Linked DNA regions of Homo sapiens: region 2 is linked to region 1. The links come from fine-mapping of genetic effects on gene expression. A gene starts in region 1. The other region holds a variant in brackets. All regions are shown on one strand. Distances are between the middles of the regions.

Region 1 (9,800 bases):
TCTGTCATACAAACACGTTTTAGAAACCCAGAGAGCTGGGCTGGGAAGGCCGCCTGTCACACTAGGAATAGCAACCAAGCAAGCATGATTTGTAGCAGCAAGTGGCCTACAGACCTCGTTTAGGGTTCCCTGTCTCACTACTTCATGCTGGATTCTGAGCAAGGGTCGTGGATCACCTGCCAATTCTACACTCTGAGCCCATCTGCAAAGCTAGGTCCAGGTTAAGGACAAGGCAGGATCTTTCTCTACATATGGAGAATAGAATCATACTCTGGGGTTTTTCAATCTTGGTTGAAACCATTTTTGAGCGAGGCACTTACAGTAGAATAAGGGACATGATGGGTGGGTTTGTATTTCACGTCTATATTTACAGGCTTATAAATGTGCAAACAGCTAGACTTCATCTGTAATACTACATATATATCAGCTATTTCTTCTTTGAAGCAGATATACCAGGACTTCCACCTATTTATTTTTTGAGACAGAGTCTCACTGTGCCGCTCAGGCTAGAGTGCAGTGGTGCAATCTCAGTTCACTGCAACCTCTGCCTCCCAGGTTTAAGCAATTCTCATGCCTCAACCCCCCAAGTAGCTGGGATTACAGGTGTGTCCCACCACACCCAGCTAATTTTTGTATTTCTAGTAGAGACAGGATTTCCCCATGTTGGCCAGGCTGGTCTCGAACTCCTGACCTTGTGATCCACCCGCCTTGGCCTCCTAAAGTGCTGGGATTACAGGAGTGAGCCACTATGCCTGGCCCAGGACTTCCACCTAGATCCGCCCTGACTCTTCGAATGAATTTTGATTTGATTCTTCTGTTCCAACACTCAGGCTGCTGCCTCTTTTACTTTCAGTTGAGTAGTTACTAAATGCTCTCACAAGCGGAAGTTGCACTGGGTAATTTACTAAGTGTGCAACAAAACAGTCTACAAGCTGAGCATGACAGGAATGCATATCCCCACCCTCAGGCTCCATCGCTCCACTCAGTGACAGTTACACGCAAGGGTAGTTTACCAGACAGAAACAGGTCACTCACCTAGACCCAGGGAGGCGGCATACTGCTGGCTGAGCAGGGAGCTGGCCGCCAGCGGGCCGTAGGGCGCCATCCCTCGGAAAGGGCTGTAAGGCACGTGCGGCTGGAAGGGCGAGGCGGAGGCAGAACCCAGGGAAGACTGAACAACGAGACATCGGGTGAGAACGGCGAAGGCCATCCCATCACCCCGCACGCCTTCATCAGGGCGCTTGTTCAGCTGGGAAACAAGCACCGTCCCATCAGCCTGCACCCTTGAGATGCTGGAGGAGCCCTTGGGGTGCAAGTTTCCAGTATGGTGAGAGCTGCCTTTTCCACAGCATTTCAGTTCCAGTTTCACCTGTCCATGTAATTCCTTTTTTTGTTTTGTTTTGTTTTTTGTTTTTTGAAAGAGTATTGCTCTGTCGCCTGGGCTGGAGTGCAATGGCGTGATCTCAGCTCACTGCAACCTCTGCCTCCCAGGTTCAAGCGATTCTCCCAGCCTCAGCCTCCCGAGTAGCTGAGATTACAGATGCCCACCACCACACCCAGCTAATTTTTGTATTTTTGGTAGAGACGCGGTTTTGCTATGTTGGCCAAGCTGGTCTTGAACTCCTGACCTCAGGTGATCTGCCCACCTCGGCCTCCCAAAGTGCTGGGATTACAGGTGTCTTGTCCATGTAATTCTAACCCAAATTTCTCCTAACTCAAAGCCATCGGATGGCTTCCCACTGCTCCCAAAGCCGGCCCTGTGTGATCCCACCTTCCAGGATGGGTGCTCAGCACAGAACCTAATGCAGTCTGAACCCCAGAGGAGCTAGTGAATATTTAAATTTAGAAGTGAAGAAAATATTAATCTGGGCTCCCTGGGGGAGCATGGGCAAAATAAGCCATAACCCAATAAGCAGGCACATGGCATCAGACTTGCAAATCTGGTGTTGTATAACAGCAGCATGTAACGACTGGGCGTAACCCGAGGGCAAGCCCTGCAGTCCCTGCAGGTAGGTCACGCCACTCACAGCAGCTGCTCAGGGCTCAGACTTCTCCAACCAGAAACTAAGGGCAAACGCTATGCCCGAAACATCACAGGTCCAGGAGCATCCACTCATACCACACTACACTACACACGCGCACATGCACACCCAACTCCCCAGGTCGCCTTCCTTAAGAGCCACGTGACACAGCACACACCACCTACTGTGTGTGCTACAAGAATCAACACCTTCTGTGAGAGCAGCAACAGCCTGGACAAAAGTTAAGCCACTTTTCATTAAAAGGTTATTCCTCAGGCTGGGTGTGGTGGCTCACGCCTGTAATCCTAGCACTTTGGGAGGCCAAGGCGGGTGCATCACAAGGTCAAGAGATTGAGACCATCCTGGCCAACATGGTGAAACCCCGTCTCTACTAAAATTACAAAAATTAGCTGGGCATGGTGGTGCGTCCCTGTAGTCCCAGCTACTCGGGAGGCTGAGGCAGGAGAATTGCTTGAACCTGGGAAGCCAAAGTTGCAATGAGCTGAGATCACGCCACTGACCTCCAGCCTGGTGACACAGCGAGACGCTGCCTCAAAGAAAAAAAAAAAAAGGTTATTCCTCACATTGAGCGTTCTGACCAAACATGCCACCAAGCTCCAAATGGAAACCAGCATCTCCTACAGCATGCACAGAGGGACAGTGGCACACTTACCTGAACAATGGCGGGATCCTGCGGGAGTGTGTGCTGAGCTTTCGGAGGTTCACACACAGTGATATCCTTGATGTCACTTCCTCGGAAAATGATGTACTCATAAATCTCCTCTCTGGGGGGCGCAGGCCTATCTGTGGGACGGTCTTCAGTGCCAAAGGACCTCACTTATGAGTGGAGAAAGAGAAGCGTTATTGTTGTCCTCAGCCAGTTCAATCAACCCTGACACCACTGCTCCCAAGCCTTCCAAAAGACGGCGACACTTGCTCAGAGCCACAACACAGCACCCCAGGTCCACATTTCAACAACTACTTAATGCCCCGATTTTCAATGGACAGTGCTGATAATGCACCAATTGGTGAAGCTCCAGACAACAGACAGCTCTAGATCACAAAGATGACAAGGAACAATTTCACAGACTGACAGTCTGATGTGCGAAGGCACCAACGTACAGAGCTCTCAGCAAAACAAGGCTTGCTTCGTAAGGCCTCCCTGTTCACGTTTGACTCTGTAGATCCAACAGCCAGCCGGCTGCTTTATGCCCAAAGCCTCACCGCACATTGCGCCTGAGGAGGCAGTTTTCTCACAAAGGAATCTAGACGAGTGTTGCCCTTACCCTTCTATCCATAACAAACCTTGGAACAGCTGTAACAGAAAACAAAGGGAGACAGGGTCCCAGGATTATGGACCTCTGACCCCGGCTTCCGCATCTATAAGGAATTGAGTCTACTAACCCCTAACCAGCAGGCTTCCAGGAGCGCCCAAGTCTCTTTCTAGCAAGCCTCTAGGGGCAGAGGTGGGTGGGACAGCAGCCTCTAACTGGTAAGACACAACTCCTGCTAACTCCTGGGCCTACTCTGGGCCTCAGCTTCTCTAACTGGGCTCTCCTGTAATAAGTGTAGTGAGGTTCCATGGCTGCAAGTGAGTGCATAGCCCTGGCATACTCAACAAGCTCCTGAAGCCACGCAGGAGACGGGCTTCAAAAGGAGACACTCCCTGTTTGGAATGAGTGCGTTCTTCTACACATGAAGTTCCCTGTGACCTAAGCAGCGTTTCAGACGCGTCTAGACACTTCAAGAACCCCTGGGAGCCTAGCGCCAGATCCAGCACACACACGGGCTTAGGCAGACGTGGCTCCACGGGCACTTTTCTCTGAGAGGCAGGGGAAGTGCACTCCCCGTCTTCTCTGGGTGATGAAGACAAAGAAACTCTGGACCACCCGCTGCCTCAACAACCTCAGAGATTCTGACTCTAAAGAGCCCCCCTCCTGTAAGTCCTCCAGCGGCCACAGCCGGTTACGAGCACCCACAGGCGGCTGTCACCAAAAGGTAAGCCCCACAGTGGGAAGGTCAGGATAGAGCAGGAGAACCGTTTAAACCGGGGCATCTGGCTGCCAACGGATGCTTCTGCCTTGGCAGGAGGCCGCATTAGGACGCGGTATTTGTTCAGGATCAAGGCCCCAGCTGTCTAATAAGTTCCAGAAAGGCTTGCAGGATTCGCGTGTTGTGACCCCACCCCCAGCCTTCGGGAGACGCCGGGACACTGGCCCCGCCACCCGACCTCGAGGCTCCCCCGCAGGGATCCCCCCAGGCTGGCGGGGAGGAGGCCCGCTGACGGGAGCCGCCCTGCTCCTCGGAGCTGGCACCTGCAGAGGTGGGCTGGGCGGCCGAGGGGGCGGCACCGCGGGGGCCGGGCCCGCCCCTCACCAAACACCGCCGGGCGCCCGCGCACAATCCCGCCGCCCTGGGAGCCCAGGGAGACCATTGTGCGGCCGGCTACGCTGGGGGAGGGTGGCGCGCGGGAAGGGGGCGCCTCGGGGGCGTCCGGGGTGAAGGCGCGGGCAGGGGATCTCGGGCCGGGTGTGCCCTGGGTGGGTTCTGGGCGGGGTCTGGGCGCCAGGCTCCGGGGCGCCCCGGGGCGGGGAGGGCACCGCAGGCCGGGGCTGTTGGCGGACGGGGGTCAGCGGGCTCGGGCGGGCGGCGGCCGCTACCTTTGGCGAGCGCCACGGTGGAGTTGTCGGTGTCGATGGTGTAGAGAATGCCCTCGTAGCGGATCTGCGCCTTGGAGATGAGGCTGATCTTGCTGCCCAGATACGGGGTGCCTGAGGAGCCGCTCATGGCGGCGGCCGGGGTGCGTCGGGCCGCGGTGGGGAAGGAGCGCCGGGCCGCGGCCCGCTCCGCCGCCGCGCGGTGGCCTGGCCGCCCGCTCCTGCGCTCCTCCGCCCGCCGCCGCCTCCGCCTGGGCGCCTCCTCGCCACCGCCCGAGGGGCCTGCGCGGGCACCGAGCGAACCAAGAAGGGGCGCGCGACTGGGGCTCTGAGAGGAGCGCGGGGGAGGAGGGGCCGCCGCAGCCACATCCGGGGCCTCGCGCCGCCACGCACCGCCACGCACCGCCCCTTCACGCTCGCCGCCCATTGGCTCGCCGCGCCCGCCGTCCTTTAAATATGGCCGGGCCGCCAGCTGGGGGGCGGGCCCTCGCGTCGTTCCTGCGCAGCAAGGCGCCGCTGGCCGGGGGCGGGTCTCCCCGGCGATCCGCCCCACCCTCGGCCGGCTCCCGGCGGGCCCCTCGCGGAGCTGGGAGCACGAGACTGAGCGGGCGGGGGGAGGGGTGGGAAGCGGCCCGGGAGGAGCGCGCGTGCGCGTGGGCGGGCGGCTGCGGTTTGCACGCTCAGTGGGCGGGACCGGGGAGGAGCGCCAGGCCCCGCCCGCGCGCGTGCCGGCGCCGCCCCGGACCCTGGGCGCCGCGAACACGGGGGCTTTGCCCCCTTGGCCTCAGTTTCCCCTCCTACAGAAGTGGGGTCCGGACGACTCCCCTATCTTGGGCCAGATGCGCCTATAGCCCTCACCCTCATGGGGGACCGGGGAGTGGCGGAGGCCCTGGGCGCCGGGTGTTCCCGGGCAGCCCCGGGACTCCCGCCCCAGTGCCCAGGTGCCGGCGGGGGGCGGGCGCGGCGGCAGCTCCCGGGAAGGCGGCGCTTCCGGCGTGGCAGCCTCTAAATATAACATGCTGAGCACACTTTCTCTTTTAATCCTGCCCCTCCTCCCAAAGCCTGCCGCAGCTTTCCATTTCCCTTAAAATAAATTCTGACTGGCTACCGGGGGCCTCGGAGCCTCCGCTCGTACCCGGGGCTGCGGCCCGGAGGCCTTGCCCACCTCCCCGGCCGTGGAGGAAGCTCGGCCGCCCGCCGTCGCTTAGCTGCGGGCCCTCCTCGCGTATACTCCGCGTGATTAGTGACCGAGGGCGCGCGGTGTGTGCTTTTTTTGCTTCCGTCTTGACCGTGAACATCATCAGATCACGGACCAATATTGGGTCCTGGAAAAAAAAAGTAGTGGGTGGTGACTATAAAAATGCAATAGGCTGGGCGCGGTGGCTCACGCCTGTAATCCCAACACTTTGGGAGGCGGAGGCGGGCGGATCACTTGAGGTGAGGAGTTCAAGACCAGCCTGGGCAAAATGGTGAAACCCTGTCTCTACTCTAAAAATACAAAAAAACTAGCCGGGCGTGGTGACAGACACGTGTAATCCCCAGCTACTCGGGAGTCTGAGGCAGGAGAATCGCTTGAGCCTGAGACGTGAAGATTGCAGTCAGCAGAGATCTCACCACTGCATTCCAGCCTGGGCGACAGAGCTAGACCCCGTCTCAAGAAAAATAATAATAAAAATGAAATAGAATAAGCTAGAAGATATCAGATGGCGTGGTGGGTGGCTCATGCCTGTAATCTCAGCACTCTGGGAGGCCGAAGCGGGAAGATCACTGGAGGCCAGGAGTTTGAGATCAGCCTGGGCGACATATGGAGACCCCATCTCTACAAAAAAAAAAAAAACTTTAAAAAAAATTGGGCGAGTGTGGGGGCACATACTTGTAGTTCCAGCTCCTGGGGAGGTGGAGGCAGAGGCGGGAGGATCACTTGAGCCCAGGAGTTGGAGGCTGCAATGAGCTGTGATTGGACTACTGCACGCAGGGGTGGCAGCAAGACCCTATTTCTAAAGGAAAAAAAGAAAATAATAGTATCTCGCATGGTGAAAGTAAGTATTATTTTGTGAAATATTTAATTCACCTGTTTGTGTAAGTGTGGACTTGGTAAGGACCTAGAATGTGTTTCTGACTATAATAAGAAGATCTTACCTGCCCTGCAGGGTAGACGCTGTGACTCCCCATTTGACAGAAGGGGAAACAGAGGCCCAGCACGGGGGAGTCACGCAGAGAAGTTGCAGTCTGGCCTGGTGGCATCCTCCACAGGCTTGGGGCCGCATCACACTGTCTCTTGTCTCTTCACAAAGGTGAAGCCAACCTGCTCCCACCAGAGCCCGGCAATGGCCAGTAAGAGAACAGTGATGAGTTTAAGGAAGGGGACACAGGAAGCAGAAGAGAAGAGGGAAAATTCAGTTTCATCTGCCAAGATTGACCTGTACATTCTAGAATTGCTTCTTGGCTCCTGGAACATCATATGCAGGAAGAGAACAGAGACAGCAAAGCCATGGAGTCAGCCCAGCTCAGGGAGGAGAGGTCTCCAGCGACTGGGGCATCTGGCCCTGGGAAGCGCGACCCAGACTCTCAGCTTCTCAACACAGCACATCCTTCCCCACTTGGATATACAGGGTGCACCTGTCAGGAGGAGGTGCCAACCAGGTCTCCTGAGTGAGCTGGCCTGGTGATCCCATGTGGAGTCAAAGTCCTTCTGTCCCCCCACCCCACCCCATTTTCCAAGTAAGGAAATCCAAGGTCACAAATCCTGTACTTCATGCCTCCTAGTTTCTGAGCCACAGGCTTCTGGCTGTGTTGGGGGTGGGGTGCATGCTTCACTAGCAGGAGCTGATTCTGCCTTGAAAAGGAGCTGGCCTCTGAGCCCCCGGACTGAAGGCAGGGAGGGTGCAGTTCCCAGAGACCTCCGAGTGCCTGCCCAGCCCGTGGGTGTGCAGCTGGTGGCTCCCTGAGAACATTAGCCACCCTGCAAATGCCCAGGAAGGCAGAGGCTAAAAATATACGTAGTGCCCAGGTCCAGGAATGCAGGCCCTGCCATTCATTCCTTGGTATCCTGCCCAAAGTGGAGGGCACTTGGGTGAGGTCTGAGAAGGCGACAGTTGTGCCAGGCCTAAGTCGACCTGGACGTTCACTGGCATGGCTTGTTTTCCAGGCTGGGGCACATGTATCCAGCACCTCCACTATAAGCAGCTCTTTACTGTGCACAGGTCTGAACAGCCCACCTGCCTGGTAATCACCAGGCTTTAGACCAGCGAGCCCAAGGATTTGGAGGAATGAGCTGGGGCTTCTGGGAAACCCTGGGCCACTTGGACTGCCTGCCTCAGTTTCTTCATTTGCCTGTCCATCTCACTGGTGTGCTTGAGGACCCCGGAAGATCATGCCTGTGAAGGGCTTTGAGAGTAACCAGGGGCTATTCTGGAGGAACGTGTAGGAACTGGGTGTGCTGAGGGCACTGGGAGGGCCATAGGGACAGCTGGAGAGGTTTCTGCTGCAGCCACAAGCCACTCATTACGTGCTTGCTCTGTGTATGTAGGAGCATGCCGTGGTCCCCAGTGACAGGTGGGGAGACATGGAGTAAGGACCCTGCTCCACGTTGCATCACCAGTCTAGCTGGGGTGGCACAGGCCAGCATCCTGCAGCAGGTAAGGGTGCCCCACCACAGAAAACCATCCTGTGACTCTAATGTTCCCCTGAGCAAGAATGACTGGCACAGCCATTGATCTCACAGGTGTCATTGCTCAGTAGGCGCCACACAAAACAGCTGAGTTAATTCAGAGGGCGTTAACGATGGGTGGTCCACAGATAAGTCAGTGGTCTGAAGTGTGGCCACGTGCTGGTGAGACAGGACTCAACCGTCCCCGTCCCCTCATTCAGGATCTGGCGCAGGAGAGGGGATTGGGGAGGCCCTGCAGGCCTCAGGCCCCCTCCCCCGAGGAAGACCCTCCAACCGCACAGGTGCAACAGCACCAGCCTGAAGGGAGCTGAGGAGGGCACAGGTGTGCCGTGTGGGGAGGCTCAGGGCCAGCTTTGCTAGGAGGACTTCCGGGCAGGGAATGGGACAGTGAGGCCCAGGGAGGGTGTTCGGGGCACAGGGACCCACAGGTGGCTGGACAGTAAGGTGAGGAGGGAGGGCTGAGTTGATCCTGTACCATCAGGAATTCTCATGGAGGTCTGACCTGCTCTCTGTGAATCCAGTTAAAATCCATTTCCTCCTGCATGGGGCTCTGCAGGGCTGTTTTCCCGGGAGGCTGGATGAGCACCAGTGGGTTGAAGTTCAGGCATCCTCAGACCCTCTTCCCTCTTCCCATCCATCTCCCCCTCCTGCCTCCTGTCCCCCTTCCACCTCCCTTTCTCCCCTTCCCACCCCAACAGCCGAGTTTCCTGGCGTGAGGAGCCCTGTGTGATGGGAAGTTCCTTGGAAAATAAAAGAGGAGTGTGTTAAACTCCAGCACCTAGCGGGCAGCCTCGGCCCCGCTTCCAGGTGCAGCTGGAGGGACAGCTGGCTGGAGCTGATGAGAACCTGGGCAGACCCAGACACCAGCTTTCGAAATGTCAGATTCTGATAGGGCCAGCCCTGGTGCTGCCACCTCAGAATGCAGGATCAAATGCTGAGAGATCCTGGTGGAACAGAAGACGGGCTGTCAGCGGGAGGCTGGCAGCTTTTCTCTCCCGGTGGCTGTGAGGGGCTCCTGGGCTTTAGGGGCTCAGGAATGGCTGGGGTGGGGGCAGCATTCCCCAGCCCTGTGTTCTACTTGGATAGAAAGTAAACGATGAAAGGCCCCTTCTAAGTCAATCCACCACTGTCTTACTGAGTGTCACCAGCCCAGTCCCACCACTCAGTGCCAGACCTGGTGCCCAAGCCGGCCACGCATTTCCTCCCCGAACCCCTCCGCAGCCCTCCGGATGTGGTGCTGCACCTTGTGAGAGGAGGAAACCAGGCTCTCAGCCTGGGCTAGGTGACAGCCAGCGTCACACGGCCAGCACATGACAGGGCTGGGATTCCTGTGTCAGTCTGCCGGCTGCTAACCCTGGGTGCTCAACGTCCGGGCCTCCTCCCTGGTGGTCCTCTGTGCTCAGCCTTCAGGTTGGGGCGGGGGGAGGGGATAGTGAACGGCGGGAAGGGACA
Region 2 (9,800 bases), 22 kb before region 1:
GGAGCCTCGAGGAGAGCACCCGCAGGACCGCCGGCTAGCGAGCACCACCTGGGCAAGACCTGGGCTGCCTTTGGCTGCTGGCTCCAGACTCCACACCCGGCGACTGGATGGCAGACAGGGACTCTGGAGACCCACCAGCCTTGGAAAGGTCACGGGTAAAGGGCAGTGGGCAGGCACAGTGTCTTTATCCAAATGCGTCCTCACCCTCCAGGCTGGGTAGGAGTTGGGAGAGCAGCTTCAGGAGCATCCAGCAAGAGGGTGTATGGCCAGGCTTTACAGGCAGAGGGGGGACAGAGGCCAGGCTGTGGCTGCTCCCTCCAGGACAATGCCTTTCTCCTGCCCACCTCCCCCGTGGCGCTTGGGTTCAAGGGCCTTGCAGAGCGCCTCCCTCACCTGACCTAAGACAGCAAGGAGGCCGAGCCTCCCTCACCTGACCGAAGACAGCAAGGAGGCTGAGCCTCCCTCACCTAAGACAGCAAGGAGGCCGAGCCTCCCTCACCTGACCGAAGACAGCAAGGAGGCCGAGCCTCCCTCACCTGACCGAAGAGAGCAAGGAGGCCAAGCCTCCCTCACCTAAGACAGCAAGGAGGCCAAGCCTCCCTCACCTGACCTAAGACAGCAAGGAGGCCGAGCCTCCCTCACCTGACCTAAGACAGCAAGGAGGCCGAGCCTCCCTCACCTGACCGAAGAGAGCAAGGAGGCCAAGCCTCCCTCACCTAAGACAGCAAGGAGGCCAAGCCTCCCTCACCTGACCTAAGACAGCAAGGAGGCCGAGCCTCCCTCACCTGACCTAAGACAGCAAGGAGGCCGAGCAAGGCCGGTGGCTGCGGGGTCCCTCCCCGGGGCTGAGCCCAGGCTCCGGAATGAGGGGACCCAACCCCCCTATCCCTGCGGATGTAAAGACAGGCCCCCATGCTCCCCTTCTCGGGTGGGGGGAGCCTCTGATCGCAGGAGGAACGCTGTCAATCAGCCACATGCAAGGGAGGCTCGGCATCCCCAAGCCATTCAGTCACTGGACAGCTTTAACCTTACAAACACTCCTAGCCAAATTAGCTTGCGTTCCTTCAGACAGCAAGTTCCACTTCTGAGGGAGCACACAGGGTGCCCACTGCCTACTGGGTGTGCACCCCATCCTCCGCAGCCCATCCCCACCCAGAAGTGCGCCCCTTGCCCATGCCCCACCCCCGCACCTGGGTACCAAGGACATGGGGTAGGGCTGGTCCAGCTTCAACAACTCCCTGGCTCTCGGACCCTGGGCACGGCACTAACCCACCCCACGAAGGTCTTGTCTTCCCACACCAAACCCACCCAGCAGGCGGCCCCAGGGGCCCACCTCCTCTCAGCTCCATCCCATTCCCTCAGAGCCTTTCCCCAACCCTGCCCCGCAACAGGTGCTGGGGATCCAGACACCCAGCAGACAGGCAGACACCACTGCTATTATCCGGCCAAGGAAACCAATGAGAAAACCAATACAAACAGAAACAGTAACACATTTATTGAGCAATTACTGCATGCCAAGCAGCAAAGAGGCAACTCAGGGGTCCCCTTCAAGCCTGGCCACATGGTCCGAGGTGACCACTGCAGGCCCAGCCCCAACAGCAGCGTAAGGAGCACGCACTGGACAACAGAACACTACAGTCCCCAGCTGGTGGCTAGAGAACACCCAGCCAGGCCCAGGGCCACCGTGGGGACATGGCCCAGCCCCACCGCAGGGTTCCCCAGCACAGTCATGTCCTCTGTGGTGCTTGCCACAGAGCAGTTCTGACTGTCTCACCCACACACTGCTGCCTGGTCACCACCAGCTACCCTCCCCACATCAGCCCAGCACCCCCTGCCCTTCCACTTTAGGTCCCCCAATACCTGCTCCATGCAGGCCAGGCTCGGGACCCTCTGTGACTCCCTGCCCCTGCCCCATGGTTCTCTTTCTCTGGGATAGCCCTCACCACAAACGCACTCTCGTGGGCTAAACTGTACCCAGACCCCTGGTGCCTGCGCATGGGAGGTACTGGAAATGAGGTATTTGAAAATGAAATAAAGACGGGGTCATGCTGGATTAAGGTAGGCCCTAAAACCAGTGACTAGAGTCCTTATAAAAAGTGGGAAATTGAGGCCAGGCATGGTGGCTCATGCCTGTAATCCCAGCACTTTGGGAGGCTAAGGGGGGGAGGGGGCAGATCACTTGGGGTCGGGAGTTCAAGACCAGCCTGGCCAACACAGAGAAACTCCGTCTCTACTAAAAATACAAAATTAGCCGGGCGTGGTGGCACGCGCCTATAATCCCAGCTACTCAGGAGGCTGAGGCAGGAGAATCGCTTGAACCTTGAACGTGGGCGGGGGCGCGGAGGTTGTGAGCCCGAGATCGCGCCACTGCACTCTAGCCTGGGCAACAAGAGCGAAACTCCATCTCAAAAAAAAAAAAAAAAAAAAATGATCAAAGCAGAGACACGCTGGATGCACCTACAAGCCAGAGAACACCAAGGGCTGCCCGCAGTCATCAGAAGCCAGGAGAAGAGCAGGTAACTGACCCCTGGACTTGGGACTTCTGGTCTCCAGAACTGTGAGGGAATAGATTTCTGTTGTTTGAAGCCACCTGGGTTGTGGGAATGTGTCAAGGAAGTCACAGGACACGAACGCATCTGCTTATCTCAAAACGCTTCCACTGATGGGACCAGCGTCACAGATGATCCAGCACGTGCTCAGCACTAACTGTGCTCAGACACTATGAGAGGCTGGGGATCAGCAAAGAATAATCAGTCACATGCCAAACTCAGGAGCTCAAGCAAGTGCTACAAGGGCCACATGACTGCCGACGGAGCATGAGACGCGGAACACGTGAGTGAGGCTTTGAAGGTTGAGTAGAAGTTGGCCTGGAAGATCTCCACCCACACAGAATGCTGTAAGGACAAGGTGTAGACCTCTTTCTCCTTCACTACCAAGCAGAATGCTGTAAGGACAAGTTGTAGACCTCCTTCTCCTTCACTACCACGCAGAATGCTGTAAGGACAAGTTGTAGACCTCTTTCTCCTTCGCTACCACGCAGAATGCTGTAAGGACAAGTTGTAGACTTCCTTCTCCTTCACTACCACGCAGGCTTCAGAGGGGTCCCTGGCTTCTCTTAAAGCTCTCGGCATGACACTACCAGCACACACTGTGGACACAGCACACGTCTGAGGCATAGAACATACACCTCTCACACCTTTCTCAGCCTTCTCACACCTCCCAGTAAAAGATCCCTGGGTACATATATTCACCGTCAAAACACCAAGCCCAATACGCAGACTGCTGGCCCTACCAAGCCAAGTCAGCAGCCTAAACTGAAGGCCTATTTCCAATGGTCAGCAGGCTGAGTTTCTGCCCAGGGACCCACGGTCCACAGGTGCATTTCTTCCTTTCTGATCTGATGTTCGGGGCAGCACCTCAATACACACTTTTACCTGGAGAATTTGGGGAGCTTCAATGGAACTGTGTGCGAAGTGCAAATAATGGGATAAACGTTGCAGCCAAAGGTAGCTTCAGGAACAATGACTGTTAAGCTCCAAAAAACCAGAGTGCCAGGAGATGCTCTGGGTTCCAACATTTGCCTCTGAGCCTAGAGCTTGACCTCCGCCTGGCCAAATGTTCCCAGATCAAGGGGCACCAACAGAGCAGACCCTGGAGCCACCGTATGGGATCGACACCTGGCTGTGCCACTTACCAGCAAGGCATTTAGCCCCCCTAGGCCTCAGTGTCCACTTACCAGCAAGGCACGGCCTCCCTAGGCCGCAGCCTCTTTAGCTATTAAACGGGATGCCAGTAGCTTCTATGAAGAATTGGATGAATCAAGATTTATAAAACCCCTAGAACAGTGTCTGGGATACGGTAAGCGCCACATAAGTGTTTACTAAGTAAATTAAAATGCCACACTTGTAAATCTGTATTTCTGCTATTCTCAATCTCTCCTGTTCAGAGTTGGCCAAGGTTCTCATTTGTTAAGACCATCAAATTTCTAAAACTAGCAACAGCAAAGGTAGTCTCAAAATAGGCGATAGATTTAGGACAACTTCCACAGGAGACTGGCACGTCATCAAGGAATAACAGCCTCAGTCAAGGTCAAGGTGAACCCCCTTAGGGAGACAAGCGGCTCCTGGGAACCTAGGAATACCACTGTTTATCCCTGCAATCCCACCAGGGTGAAGACGGAGTCAGAGTTTAGGAAAAAAAACCAATGTCATTCCAACAGATGTTGTGACAACTGAAACGGGTATGGCTAATGCTGATTTTCTTCCGAATCTGTCTTCTACAGAAAAAACAGCAGAAAATACAAAGTCTCAATTTCAAAACTTAGGGCTTTGGATAACGGTGTCCCAAACCCACATAAACGCTGTCTCTTGAAAACCACAAGGCCGAACTTACGGAGCTAGAAGAAAGGTTGTGGAGCAAATCCGTCAAGTTTGTTAGGCGAGGCGGCTGGCGAGGGTGTCACGCTGAAACCCGGCGTAGCCGCGAGGATACGGAGGGGGCGGTGCGCTCCCTACGGGGCCGGGCTGCGTAACGATGCCCCGCAAATGGGGATCGGGACGCGTCCTTCCGTGCCTCCATCGTTCGCGCCTCGCTCCAGGAGCAAGAGGGGCAGCCCCGGCCACAGTCCCCGCGGTCGCAAGTGCGCCCGGAGGCCGACCCGGGCCCCTCACCACTAACCAAAATGAGCGCAGAAAACGAGTACCGCCCGCCGTCGCCACCGAAGCTGGCTGCGGAGCGCGAC[A/G]AGCCCTCGCCGCGGCTCCGGCCCCGAGGGGTCCCCGTGCGCCCGGCATAGCCCAGGACAGTTCCCAGCGCGCGCCGCGGACTCGGGGGACAGCGCGCTCGGGGGCCGGCAGCCTCCAGCGTCCGCCCGGCCCCCACCGCCCAGTGCCCCGGCCCGAGGGACCCGCGCGCCCCAACAAAGTTGGCGCAGGCTCTCCGGGGACCGCCCCCCACACGGCCGGGTGCCCGCCGGCGCGCAGGCGTGGGACGCGGGGAAGGGCACGGGGCCGCCGTCGGGGCTCGCGGCCGCCCGGCTGCGCCCCGGCTTTGTTCGCGCCCCGCGCCCGCCAGCTGCCCGCGCCCCGTCCCCGCGCGCGCCCGCCCGCAGACCCGCCGCCCAGCGCCGCCGCTCCGGCCCGGCCCACCTTCTGGATGGTTTGCTGCGTAACCTCCCCTTTGCCTCTTGGCCGGGCAGACGCGAAGGCCACGGACATGGTGGCGGCGCGGGGCTCAGCCCGTGGTCATCGAGGTGGATACTCCGGCTGCGCTGGGCGGCCCGAGGCGCTCATTATCCGCAGTCGCGGAGGGGGGGAAGGGGGCGGGAGCGCGGGGGGCGCCGCGTCGTGGGCTCGTCCGCCCCGTCGCCGTCGCCGCGCCTCCGGGCCCGCGGCGCCGCCGCTCCGCCCTGCAGAACGGTCTGCGGCCCAGTGCCGAACGGTGGCCCCCGGCGACCCCCTCGCACCCAGCGCCCGGCCCTCGCCGGAGCACCGCCTCCCACCCCCGGCCACCGGTGGTTCGGCCTGACCCCGCCCCGGCGCGCGCCATCACGTCCGCCCGACGCCGCCTGACGCTGCCCGTCGCCGCCTGACGCCGCCCGTCGCCGGCAGCGCAGGACACGGCGCCGAGGGTGGGGCGCGGGCGTAGTGGCGCCGGGAGTCGCGGGTGCGCGCGGGCCGTGAGTGTGCGCTTTTGAGAGTCGCGGCGGAAGGAGCCCGGCCGCCGCCCGCCGGCATGAGCTACGACCGCGCCATCACCGTCTTCTCGCCCGACGGCCACCTCTTCCAAGTGGAGTACGCGCAGGAGGCCGTCAAGAAGGGCTCGACCGCGGTGAGGCGGCGGGGCCTGCGCGGGGCCGGGGACGCGGGCGGAAGTGGGGCTGGGGAGCCCAGAGAGGGCCGGGGCCGGGCGCGGCGCTGTGGGCGCCCGCGGGCGTGCGCGGGGCAGCGGCGCGGGCGGTCAGGGCTGTAGCTGAGCGCGGGCCCCGCTGCCGGTCTCCACGAGTGCCTGCAGAGGCGGCGTTTGGCGTGAGCCGCGAGCGCTCGTTCTCCCCACTCAGCGCCTCGCTTGGGGCCCGGCCTCGCGTGGGGCCCCGGGCACGGGGGCCGTGACGACGCCATCTTGAGCACCCCTGGCCCCGGCCGGGCGCGTGGGTCGCGCCGCCGCCCCGGCGAGCAGAGGCCGGGCGAGGGCCGCTCTGGGCCGCGGAGCGCGGGGGGTAGGCCGTGCGCTCGCTGGGGGGCTGTTCACGCAGCCGGGTGGCTGGGGAGCGAACTACTCAAACCCCCCTTATGGGGACCCCCACCCGCTCCGGGGCAACACTTATTCTCTAGGCCCAGGTGGGCTTCGAGAACAAAGCGGCTCGCTGGCCTGGCCGGTGGCGGGCGCCTCCCAGGTCTCCGCACTCTGCCGGGAGGAGCCTTCCCGGGGCCGGGCTGCAGCCGCCCGGGTCAGGACTGGTTTGGACGCGGCCGTTTCGTTTTGACGAGGGCTCGTGTACATTGACCTTAGTGACATTGTTTGAAACTTAAATTCGTACCATCAAGACGTGTCAGTTTAATTGGTCAGTCTGTGAGATCGTTATTCTTTTATCATCTGGTATTCAGAGGTTTGAGCAGGCAGAGAAAGCAGCACACACGGTTCTGTAAATTTTGATTTGTTTTCATTTTCTGAATCTTTGTTTTGAAATGAAGGCCCAGTATTCATCAGGTGATCTAACTCAGCTTAAAGAGGACTAGGAGTCGGCTGACCCCTGTACCCACCCCAATACTGCCACCCCCGCCAGCTGGCCGCCGCTGGCTTTAACGAACCCATATAGCTTCTCTGGGCCTCGAGTCAGTCGAAGGTCAAGTGAGTCAGTACCTGAGAAAGCTCCCAGAAAACCCAAACACTTCAGATCAATACTTCTCAGCCAGGGATGGTTTTGGGCCCACACGGAGCCACTGGCAGTGTGTGGAGACTTTTCCAGTGGTAAGACCTTGCAGAGGTGCTCTTGGCATTTGGAGGGTAGAGGCCAGGGACGCTGCTCAATATCCCACCCGTGCTCAGGGCGGCAGGCACAGGGAGATCCCCCTGCCCAGGTGCTCACAGTGCTGAGCTGGAGAAGCCCTGCTCTAAACCAGGAGGCGCTGTTTATCCCAATGATGGTTCCCTTTGTTTCTGGCTTGACTCGGGTTGACTGTCAGTGATTGTTCATGCTTTTAATAACAGCCATATCCTTCTCCAGCATCAGCCATAAACAGTTTGGGATAACACTTGACACCTTGTCCACTGACGGCAAATCAGGCCCCTTCTCATGGCTGTCACATGAGTATGTCACAGTGCAGGAAACAGTGCATTGTGGCTCAATATAATTTCACAACTACAGAAACACTGCCTTCAGAACACCAGACTTGAGTGAAAGTCTCAGGCTTCCAGGCTTTGCATGGGACTGATTCATTGGGTTGAAAGGAAACACATGCCGATTATATAATGGTTACTTACTAGCTATGTTGTAACTAAAACTACATCTCAGTATTTGAAAGGCCCAGGTTGGGCACCTAGGTGAGCACGCCTGGGCTAGCTCTACCAGCAGTAGATGAATACCCCTGGGTTTGCAGGATGTGGTGCCAGCCACAGTGACAGACAAGTAGAGGAGAAAGGGGTGTGGGTGAACGCACCTTCCAGTGGGAGCTGCTACCCGGAGTACGTACCCCCCAGGACCCAGGTTCAGATCTGCTCCTACTGCTCGCTGCCTGGCAGTAGAACCATGTATCACTTTTTTGGGAGGATAGGGTGGGGTGAGGGGACAGGGTCTTGCTGTCTCTGTCTCCCAGCCGTCATGGCTCACTGCAGCCTCCACCTTCCAGGCTCTAGCGATCCTCCCACCAGCCCCCACAGTAGCTGGGACTACAGGCTTCAGCCACCACACCTGGCTAATTTTTGTACTTTTTGTAGAGACAGGGTTTTCCCATGTTGTCCGGCTGGTCTTGAACTCTTGAATTTAAGTCATCCACCCACCTCAGCCTCCCAAAGTGCTGGAATTAACAGGCATGAGCCACTGCACCCAGCACTCATATCACTTTCTTACGTGGTTTGTGGATCTTAATTAAAGGTTGGTGTTCGAGGAAGAGACATTGTTGTTCTTGGTGTGGAGAAGAAGTCAGTGGCCAAACTGCAGGATGAAAGAACAGTGCGGAAGATCTGTGCTTTGGATGACAACGTCTGCATGGCCTTTGCAGGTATGAGTCGGTGGGGAGCGCTGTCTTACTCTCTAGAGTCTCAGCGAAGAATAGGGCTTTGGAGATTAACTTGGGTGTGTGGGCTATTGTGAGCCATATAAACTGAGTAAATGAAAATCATTTAAAAGAATTGGATTTGGACTTTTAAGTTGGCTAGTTTCTTTGGTGGCCTCTCTCTGCCATAGCAGGTGAAACAAATGGCTAAATGGATGAAAACACTTCTGGCTGCTGCGCAATTTGACCTCCACTGTTATTTTTCTGTATCAATCAGTTACAATCTAGAGAAAGGCTGGACTTTCTAGAGCTAACTGCATCTGTGGCATGGAGAGGACAGAACCACGTCCTGCCATCCCCAGCAGTAAAAAGGACCACACTGGTGGATGCAGGCCATGCCTCGCCATGTTCTCAGCGCTGTTTTGGTCTTGCTCATTTCTCCTCTCAGCAGATGCAATCTAGGAAGATCTCAATTCATGTAATGAAATTAGGGATTAACTCAATTTCTAAGATTCCCAAGAGGACTCAGGTACTGTATTTAAGTATGGTCTGAAGTACACAATTCTTCATATGCAGACAGTCCCTGTTGATCTGTGTTTTTAAAAATCCAGATTCTGCACGGCAGCCTACAATTTTTTATTTACAATGGGTTTATGGGGTAGTAAATGCATTTTCAGCCAGGTATTTTTGACTTACGATGAGTTTAGCGGGATACCACCCCACTGCACATCAAGAAGCATCTGTACCCAATTTCCTGGAAGTTCCCAGGGGCTGATAGGTTCCGCTGCCAGTCAGTTAGAATAGCCTTGCTGCCGGTTTGGGGGGTCTGTGGAAGGTTAAATGCTGGGTCATCGTGTCTGTCCCCACCCTGTAGTTTGTGCTGTCTCTCTAGCAGAAGCCTCTCTGCTTTCCTTGCAGGCCTCACCGCCGATGCAAGGATAGTCATCAACAGGGCCCGGGTGGAGTGCCAGAGCCACCGGCTGACTGTGGAGGACCCGGTCACTGTGGAGTACATCACCCGCTACATCGCCAGTCTGAAGCAGGTGGGTGCCTGCCCGCTTGCATGCTCACCTCTGGCAGCAGGGCAGTCACGGCTCCGCCATGGAGGGTCCTGCCATGTCACTTCAGGTGAATCAGAAAACTGATTTATTCTGGGGCGTGATCCTAATCTTGACTTGCACAAGTGTAACTTGACCTAGCTCACCAATTTCAGTAACATTGTTCTGTTCTCAGTTCCTGGCATGGGATATTCCAAATTCCTGTGTCTGGAGGGAAATGATAGCTTTTGTCTTGCCATCCTGAGTGACCAGTCACAAAGCAGTTGAAGGGGGCTGGAAGCCACCCTATGAGGACACGCCATTAGTATGTAAGCAGAATGTGTGTCTACCTGTCAAAGTAATTTCCAGTAACCTGAGTTCACAATTCTGGTCCTAGGTGAGTTTTTCTAGGAGTGAAAATGCAGAAAAGGATGTTGAAAGCTATTGGCTAATGTATCATTTGAACTGCTGATAACCTGAGAAGGGGCTCAGGCATGGTTTAAAATGTTCGTATCTTCACTAAGTACGGTTCTTTCCTCACATGCAGTTTCTT

Which allele goes with the higher level. Alleles are on the strand shown, and positions count from the first base shown. SD is a standard deviation of normalised expression in the study named.
As copies of G replace A in region 2, the expression in breast of the gene that starts at base 5,000 in region 1 goes down (small effect, 0.22 SD a copy in GTEx).

The links.
Region 2: its variant is fine-mapped to the expression of LSM14B in breast (GTEx, PIP 0.94).

The regions. Positions count from the first base shown.
Region 1 is chr20:62,117,675-62,127,474 of GRCh38, reverse strand. LSM14B (LSM family member 14B) reads right to left here and starts at 5,000. Exons shown (of 9, transcript NM_144703.3): 1 at 4,682-5,000; 2 at 2,695-2,858; 3 at 1,036-1,171. The coding sequence starts at 4,808. LOC105372706 (a long non-coding RNA gene) reads left to right here and starts at 3,791. Exons shown (of 3, transcript XR_936963.2): 1 at 3,791-4,019. RefSeq lists enhancers at 3,424-4,111, 4,112-4,800, 4,801-5,488 and silencers at 4,152-4,691, 4,852-5,941.
Region 2 is chr20:62,139,234-62,149,033 of GRCh38, reverse strand. It overlaps PSMA7 (proteasome 20S subunit alpha 7), which reads left to right and starts at 5,640. Exons shown (of 7, transcript NM_002792.4): 1 at 5,640-5,826; 2 at 8,090-8,216; 3 at 9,129-9,253. The coding sequence starts at 5,731. It overlaps SS18L1 (SS18L1 subunit of BAF chromatin remodeling complex), which reads right to left and starts at 5,265. Exons shown (of 11, transcript NM_198935.3): 1 at 5,145-5,265. The coding sequence starts at 5,213. RefSeq lists silencers at 4,789-4,838, 4,869-4,928, 5,049-5,758, 5,799-6,438. The variant A/G (reference allele first, on the strand shown) is at 4,742.